2 linked regions of the Homo sapiens genome follow. The protein of the gene in region 1 purifies or fractionates together with the protein of each later gene. This does not show direct contact. Each region holds a gene or a part of one and is shown in the gene's direction. Other genes may lie near its edges.

Region 1 (3,649 bases):
TGACCTAGCTGGAGCAGTGTTGGTCAGTGTGATGATAGTTAAAGAGACTGTTCCACCCAAGGGTAGGTACAGGCAGCAAAGAACATCTACTTAGATTTCTGAGTTCATATCATACTTTTATAGTACTGAGCTAATCTGGTGACTGACTGCATAGCAGATAATGTACTCTCAACCTGCAGTTTGCCTCTGTCTTCATGCATTCCACTTTTGAGACAGAAAGAGTCCATCCTATTGGCTAGAAACATAATTTCTATCCACAAAGTATATTTGAGGTGAGAGGTCCAGTTTTTGTGTCAGAAGGGAACTTGCTAACCTACCCAGGAGCAGCTATTCTAGATTAAACTCATGGACTAAATCCAGATATGATAATAATAGTAAATATATGTATCACTATGTTCCAAACACTTACCTAAGATCTGTATTTGTGTTAGCTCAGCTACACCATTATCTCCAGAGAGGTAAAGTATCTTGCCTTGAGGCTATACAGTAAGTAGCAGAGATAGTGAGATTTCAAACCCAGGCATCCGGCACCAGAGTCTGCCTCTCAGCAATGATGGCTGAATGGCAGAACTTAACTTACCCTGTTACAGGCACTGTTATCAGGCAGTTCACCTGCATTCTCTCCCATTCAACTGCCCAGTCTCTGGGGCAGGAGGAAATGGGATTTTTAAAGGCTTTATTTAAACCTTTTTTGGTCAAGCATTTATTGTATACAAGTACTTTTGTCCTTGGTTAGACTGAGATTAAAATACATACATACACACACAGACACACACACACACACTTATTTTAAGAACGCAGGTTCCCAAAATCGAGTATACATCTGTAGATTGCAGATGTGTGCTTAAAATCAGTTTTTGAAACTACTTAGAAACAACCTGGACAAGTCAGATGAATCCAATTTCTTTTCTTAAATTTTTTAATTTTGAAAAATATGTATTTGTTTTGAGGATTCCCAGGGATAAATCCTATTTCTGACTCTTTCTAGTACCTTCTTAGGTCTCATCCTTATGTTTTTAACATATGCAGTATTTGCAAGTGTATCATTCCCAGCAGCTATATAGACCTAGGCCAAGTTAATATTTCAGAGGAAATGAAACCCAGACTCAGGTAGCAGTATTCTTCTTTAATGCAGCTGGCACTTCTGCCATCTTGGCTGTGTGAGTCAGTGCTATTTGGAGTTAAGCTTAACTTGTGCCCTAAGCTTGTACTGAAACTATAAAGACCTTAACCTCTGTACTCCTCTTCATCCCCTTGATTCTTGGAAAAAATCCAGATCTTAACAACCTTAGTCAAGATTTAAGGTACTTCCTGTTGTTTTTGGAGCCAAAATATTTCATGACTCATAAGTGGGCCTTAAAGAACAGGACTAAATCATTGAAGAAACTGCAGAAGTGCAGTGAAAATGGTGCAGTTCCCAATTCAGAAGTGGGAGGTAGTTCCTCTCTTAAGGGTCATTCCTAGTTCAGAGATGGTAGGTGGTTTTTCTGTTTAGGGTCACTCCTCTGTTCAGTGTTAAGTGGTAGTTCCTCTTAAATTCCATAGTCTGCTTACTCGGAAGTGAGTAGGCTTCTGGAATCAGTCTTATTTTATTTTATTTTATTTTTTGAGACAGAGTCTTGCTCTGTCACCCAGGCTGGAGTGCAGTGGCGCAATCTCGGCTCACTGCAACCTCTGCCTCCCCAGTTCAAGCGATTCTCCTGCCTCAGCCTCCTGAGTAGCTGGGATTACAGGTGAGCACCACCATACCTGGCTAATTTTTGTATTTTTATTAGAGACGAGGTTTCACCATGTTGGTCAGGCTGGTCTCGAACTCTTAACCTCTTGATCCACCTGCCTTGGCCTCCCAAAGTGCTGGGATTATAGGCATGAGCCACCATGCCCACCCTTGAATCAGCCTAATTTTAAAAGCCAAGACTGATATTCTGACACTTTTCATCGTTTTACCTATACCTTTAATAGTGCTGCTTATTTCTCTAGGAAGTCAAGTTGGGGTGAAAGAAAGAAGGGATTCCAGGAAGACAAAATACTGGGCAAAGGATTTACCAGCAGTTTGGGAGAAAGGGTACAAAATCTGGATAGAAGATACTTCATCACTGAAAATCACAGAGGATATAGGGGTTGAACCTCTACGATAGAAAGAGAATCATGGTGAGGGGCAAAGAGGCGATGCTGAATTAAGAAACCTGAAAAGTTGAGTTTGAGACAGACCTTCATCCAGAGTCCTCAAGTAGTTCTCAGATGCAAATTTCCTTGGGGTGTCCTTCCATTCATCAACATGGCTGCGTATTTAAAGCTTCTTTCAGGTTCCGGTAACAAGGGCTTCCAAGTCAGGCCCACCCATTGAGTCTTCGATCTGCCCCTTCCAGGCAATGTGACCTTGGACAAATCTCAGTAATCTTTGCTCTTCTGGTTTCTAACCCCTAAAACAAGGATGATAAATACCATTGTTGTGAGATGTTTTCTTCAGATGCCTCTGCTTTCCTTCATTCTTGCTAGTCAAGGTACAATTTCCATAGAGTCTAAAAATGAATGATTCAGGAACTAAAAACTCTTGAAGCCAGATTCAAGAAAGGTTCAGTCTGTTTTGGGATCTGGCAGACTTTCCAAGCAATAATAGCAGACTCCCTCAATCAGTGTTTGCTCATGTAGAACTTGAGGTAGAAAGATGTTGTAATTCATTTCTGATCTTCCTCCGCGGAGTTTCAGGCTCTACATTTGCTTTCTAGCTGTTTCCGCATAAAGTGCGGTTTTTGGCCAGGTGCGGTGGCTCATGCCTGTAATCCCAGGACTTTGGGAGGCCAAGGTGGGCAAATTGCTTGAGCCTAGGAGTTTGAGACCAGCCTGGGCAACATGGTGAAACCCTGTCTCTACAAAACACAAAAATTAGCCGGGTGTGGTGGTGCATGCCTATTGTTCTAGCTACTCAGGAGGATGGAGTAGGAGGATCACTTGAGCCTGGGACGGTTGAGGCTGCAGTGAGCTGAGATTGTGCCATTGCATCTAGCCTGGGTGACAGAGTGAGACCCTGTCTCAAAAAAAAAAAACAAAAAAAAACCACAAAAACAAAACAGGGAGGGTGCAATGACTCACGCCTGTAATCCTAGCACTTTGGGAGGCCTAGGCAGGCAGACCACGAGGTCAGGAGATCAAGACCATCCTGGCCAACATAGTGAAACCCTGTCTCTACTAAAATACAAAAACTTAGCCGGGCATGATGGCACTCGCCTGTAGTCCCAGCTACTCAGGAGGCTGAGGCAGGGAATGGTTTGAACCCGGGGGGTGGAGGTTGCAGTGAGCTGAGACTGTGCCACTGCACTCCAACCTGGTGACAGAGCAAGACTCCATCTCAAAAAAAAAAAAAATGTAGTTGTTCCTGTAGTGAACAACTTTCATCAGATTTACATGCTAATCTATATGCTAGAAAAAGAAAGGGAAAATAGGAATATTTTCATCCAAAGGAAGGTTGAAGCAAACGTCTTCAAGGTTTAAGTTTAAACTGTGACCCTTACCATTAAGAATGCGAGATAAGACTCTAGGAATGTTTGGAATTTCTCTGATTGAAGTTTAATTCCTTTAATATGATCATTTATGGATATGGTCTTGATATTATTTAGTTTGACAAATATTAACTTTCTCTTGATCAAAA
Region 2 (3,649 bases), on another chromosome or scaffold:
CCTTTTGATTATTCCTTGTAAGATGTGAGAAGCAGGTGAGACTCCATGTGCAAATCGGGGGGCGGGGTGGGGGCAAGAAATATAGTCTTATTAATTTTCTGTAACTGAACTTAATTTCTGTGCTGAAGGCTGGGCGCGGTGGCTCACGCTTGTAATCCCAGCACTTTGAGAGTCTGAGACGGGTGAATCATGAGATCAGGATTTCAAGACCAGCCTGGCCAAGATGCTGAAACCCCATCTCTACTAAAAATACAAAAATTAGCCGGGCGTGGCAGTGTGTGCCTGTAATTCCAGCTACTCGGGAGGCTGAGGCAGGAGAATCACTTGAACCCGGGAGGCAGAGGTTGCAGTGAGCTGAGATTGTGCCATTGCACTCCAGCCTGGGCAACAGAGCAAGACTCCATCTTAAAAAAAAAATGTTGGGCCCACATTATTTTCAGGGGTGAAAACTTAACCAGTGTGGGGATTGCCTTCCCCAGGAGCCCCTTTGGCTCTGCAGCAGCCTTTGCTGTGCAGAATTTGCAGGGATGTGGGAACTCAGGGAGGTGCCCCGGGCCCTGCTCTTTGGGCACTTGCCTCTGCCACTTCCTCTCTTGAGTCTCGACACCTTCCTGTGCATTATCTGGGGAAGGAGGGCAGAGGCCTCCTCTGTTCTCAGATTTCTCAGATCCCTTCTGAACAGGGGTTCAGCCCAGTGGGGAGGGCATAGGACACCTGTCTCAGGAAGTCATCAGCAACCTGGGTCTGACTTCCCCCTTTGCCTCCCCTTCCCCACTCTAGGGAGAGCAGCCCACACAGGGCTCTTACTCATCATCTGGTCTCTCTCAAACGGGTTCTTTCTCTCACTCTATCACATTCTCTGCTTTCTGTTTTTGAGACAATGAGCCTAGGACAATAAAAAACGGGATAAAAGGACATATTATTGGAGGAAAACGTTGCTTACTATTTCTAAAATCTTCTGCCCCAAAGATTTCCTGACCTACCCTCCATGCTCCTCCTCTGAGCAAAGCAGTAATTTTCTCCCAACAGCTGTAGACTAATTCCTGCTCCCCCTGCCCCCTCCCTCAGAGGACGCACACTAAGAAAACAGCATTCCTTTCCAGGTAAAGTTGAGCCCCGTGTCACTAAGTTTAAGTCCCTTTTCTCACAATCTGGGCACTCAGCCTTCATCCTGCCCAGGGGCCTGGGTTCTGGCTTTTCCATTCCTCCTGCCCCTGCATTTGGAACACATGAGTGACTCGCCCATTGACACGGCTCTATCCCTGAAGCTGAGAATTCCTTCCTCTAGAGTAACTTGGAGTTCTTTCTGAAAGGGTGGGATCTGCTGTCATCTGGGCCTCTGAGCCTTCTCTGTCCTCCCCTGTCTCACACACAGCACTCACTTTACCAGCTCTGTTAATTCCTAACCCAATTACAAAGGGCCATTCCTTCCGGGCACACGTCTTAAAATGGCCAGACCCTCTGACTGTCTGGAACTAATAATGGAAAATGTAGGTTAGATGGTTATTAATAGGTTTTTGCACACCGAAAGCCTCCTGGGGAGTAGGGAGCGGGCAGAGGGCAAGGCCTTCAACCATACAGCAAAGTAGGCAAGGAATTGTGCTTGGGGAGGGTGGAAAGCCTAGGCTTGTGATGGATGCAGGTTTTGCAGAGGCAGAGTGAGCCTGAAGGGGCCTCCAGCTTCCTGCCACTTCCTCTCGGTCTCACCCCAGGGCATCCTCCTGAACTGGACCAAGGGTTTCAAGGCATCAGACTGCGAGGGCCAAGATGTCGTGAGTCTGTTGCGGGAAGCCATCACTCGCAGACAGGTAGGAGCCTGTTCTAGGGGTGCTTTGGGGCTGTGGCAGGCCTTGAGGGGAGCAAAGAGTCTCCTACTTTCTGAGGGGGGAGCCCTCTGCGGTAGAGACCTCTGGGTCCAGTGCTGGTTGCTGTGACGACCGCGTTGCCCAGCAACTAGCAGCATCCTTTTGTGTGCAGGCAGTGGAGCTGAATGTGGTTGCCATTGTCAATGACACGGTGGGGACCATGATGTCCTGTGGCTATGAGGACCCCCGTTGCGAGATAGGCCTCATTGTCGGTGAGGAGGGCCCTGCCCTTTCATGCCCCTACTGCTTGGCAATTTGCTGCCTTCTGTTGATTCCTCTGGTTGGATGTTTCCTTGGCGGTGGGGATGTGGGATTGCTCTGGTCTGACCCAGTAGGGCTCTGGAACAATCTCTTGGGCTGGCAGTTTGGAGCTTGGGTGTATAGTCCAGCTCAGTGACTGACTCATGGTCATTTAAGCTCTCTGAACTTCACTTTGCCCATCTGATAAATGAATCTGAGCTTTGGAGTTGTACAGATTTGGGTGGAAATACTAGCTTTGTGTTTCCACCTGTATGACCTTGGGCAAGTCACCAGAGCCTCAGTTTCCTCATCTCTAAGATGGAGATAAGAGTAACAATGCCTGTCTCAAGGCATCATGAGGATGAAATGGGAGGGGACAAAATACAGCATGGTCCCTGGCTCATGGTACACACCTGGTGTTTGGAGCTGGGCGGGGGCAGGGGACCAATGAGCAATGAGGGTCCTTCAGACAGTCCAAGATTCCATCCTTATTAAGCACCTACCCTGTGTCCACAGGGGACTGGACAGAGGAATAGGAAGACACATAAAACAAGAGGCAATTTCTGCCTTCTCAGAACCGACCACTCAGCAAGGGTTAAGCCCAGAACAACACGTAGCGGTCAGAGAGTGACTTGATTCTACACGTGGGCAGCAGCGAGGCCAAGATCAGGAAGGAGTGGGTCCCAGGATGAGTGGAACTTGAAAGCCCTGAAAGAAAGGATTTGGCTCTGTTGGGGAGGAGGGATCCCACAGCTCCTGGGGCATTGGTCTCTCAACACGAGGCATGTGGCAGCCTCTCTTGAGGGGGAGGTTTTTGAACCCAGCACCTGGCACGGTTAGGCACTTGGGAGAGGCATGCCCAGGTTGCTGTGTGCATAAACAGCTGGACAGAGGAGCTCCAGGTGGGGCCAGCAAGGAGCCCACCTTCCTGGAGCTGAAGCTGTGTCAGAGAAAGGAAGGAGACGCCCTCATCCAGGGTGCGTCCTCTGCCTGGAATGCCTTTTTCTTTCTGTGCTTCTTGGATTCAGTCACTTCCTCTCTGTTGCTTTCCTGATCCTGTTGGCAGAGACTCGCCCCGTGGTCTGGGCTCCCACGATGCTCTCCTTGGTGCTTCCACGGGGGCACAGAGGCTCTGTCAGAGCTGGCTATTCATTGCCTGACCTCTGGCCAGACTGTGGGGCTCCTCGTCTCTGATTTCTCTGTGTCCCCTGCTCTTGGCCCAGCACCTCTTAGTTGGATTAAGGGCCTGGCAGGCCGGTCCAGGGAGCTTCGGCCTCTCAACCGCAGAGAGCTAGGGGCGAGGGCGGGGGATGTCACATGTCTCCCAGGGGAATGACAGGACAGCTGGGCATTGTAGGAGCACTTGGGGGTGGCATGGTGGATGCACTGATGGTGATGTTGGTGGGAAAGGCAGTGAAGGTCCCCAGGGCTTGGAGCTGGCAGGGTCTGCACGAGGGATGTCGGGAAGGAAGAAGGACCAGGACCAGGGACAGGCTGTGAGCATGAGAGGTAGAGAGAGTGAGCCCGAATCGTTGCCATCTCGG

The links. The genes of interacting proteins can lie anywhere in the genome.
Region 2: the proteins of NPC2 (region 1) and HK3 purify together in Homo sapiens (affinity purification with mass spectrometry; 2 studies listed by BioGRID and IntAct, with this or other methods). This does not show direct contact.

What each region holds. Positions count from the first base shown.
Region 1 is NC_000014.9:74,486,673-74,490,321, reverse strand, and holds part of NPC2 (NPC intracellular cholesterol transporter 2 isoform 2 precursor), read left to right. Parts: intron 1-3,649. UniProt on the Homo sapiens protein: Intracellular cholesterol transporter which acts in concert with NPC1 and plays an important role in the egress of cholesterol from the lysosomal compartment.
Region 2 is NC_000005.10:176,882,198-176,885,846, reverse strand, and holds part of HK3 (hexokinase-3), read left to right. Parts: coding exon of another isoform or gene 1-21; exon of another isoform or gene 22-36; intron 37-1,029; exon of another isoform or gene 1,030-1,103; intron 1,104-1,712; coding exon 1,713-1,808; intron 1,809-1,977; coding exon 1,978-2,077; intron 2,078-3,649. UniProt on the Homo sapiens protein: Catalyzes the phosphorylation of hexose, such as D-glucose and D-fructose, to hexose 6-phosphate (D-glucose 6-phosphate and D-fructose 6-phosphate, respectively).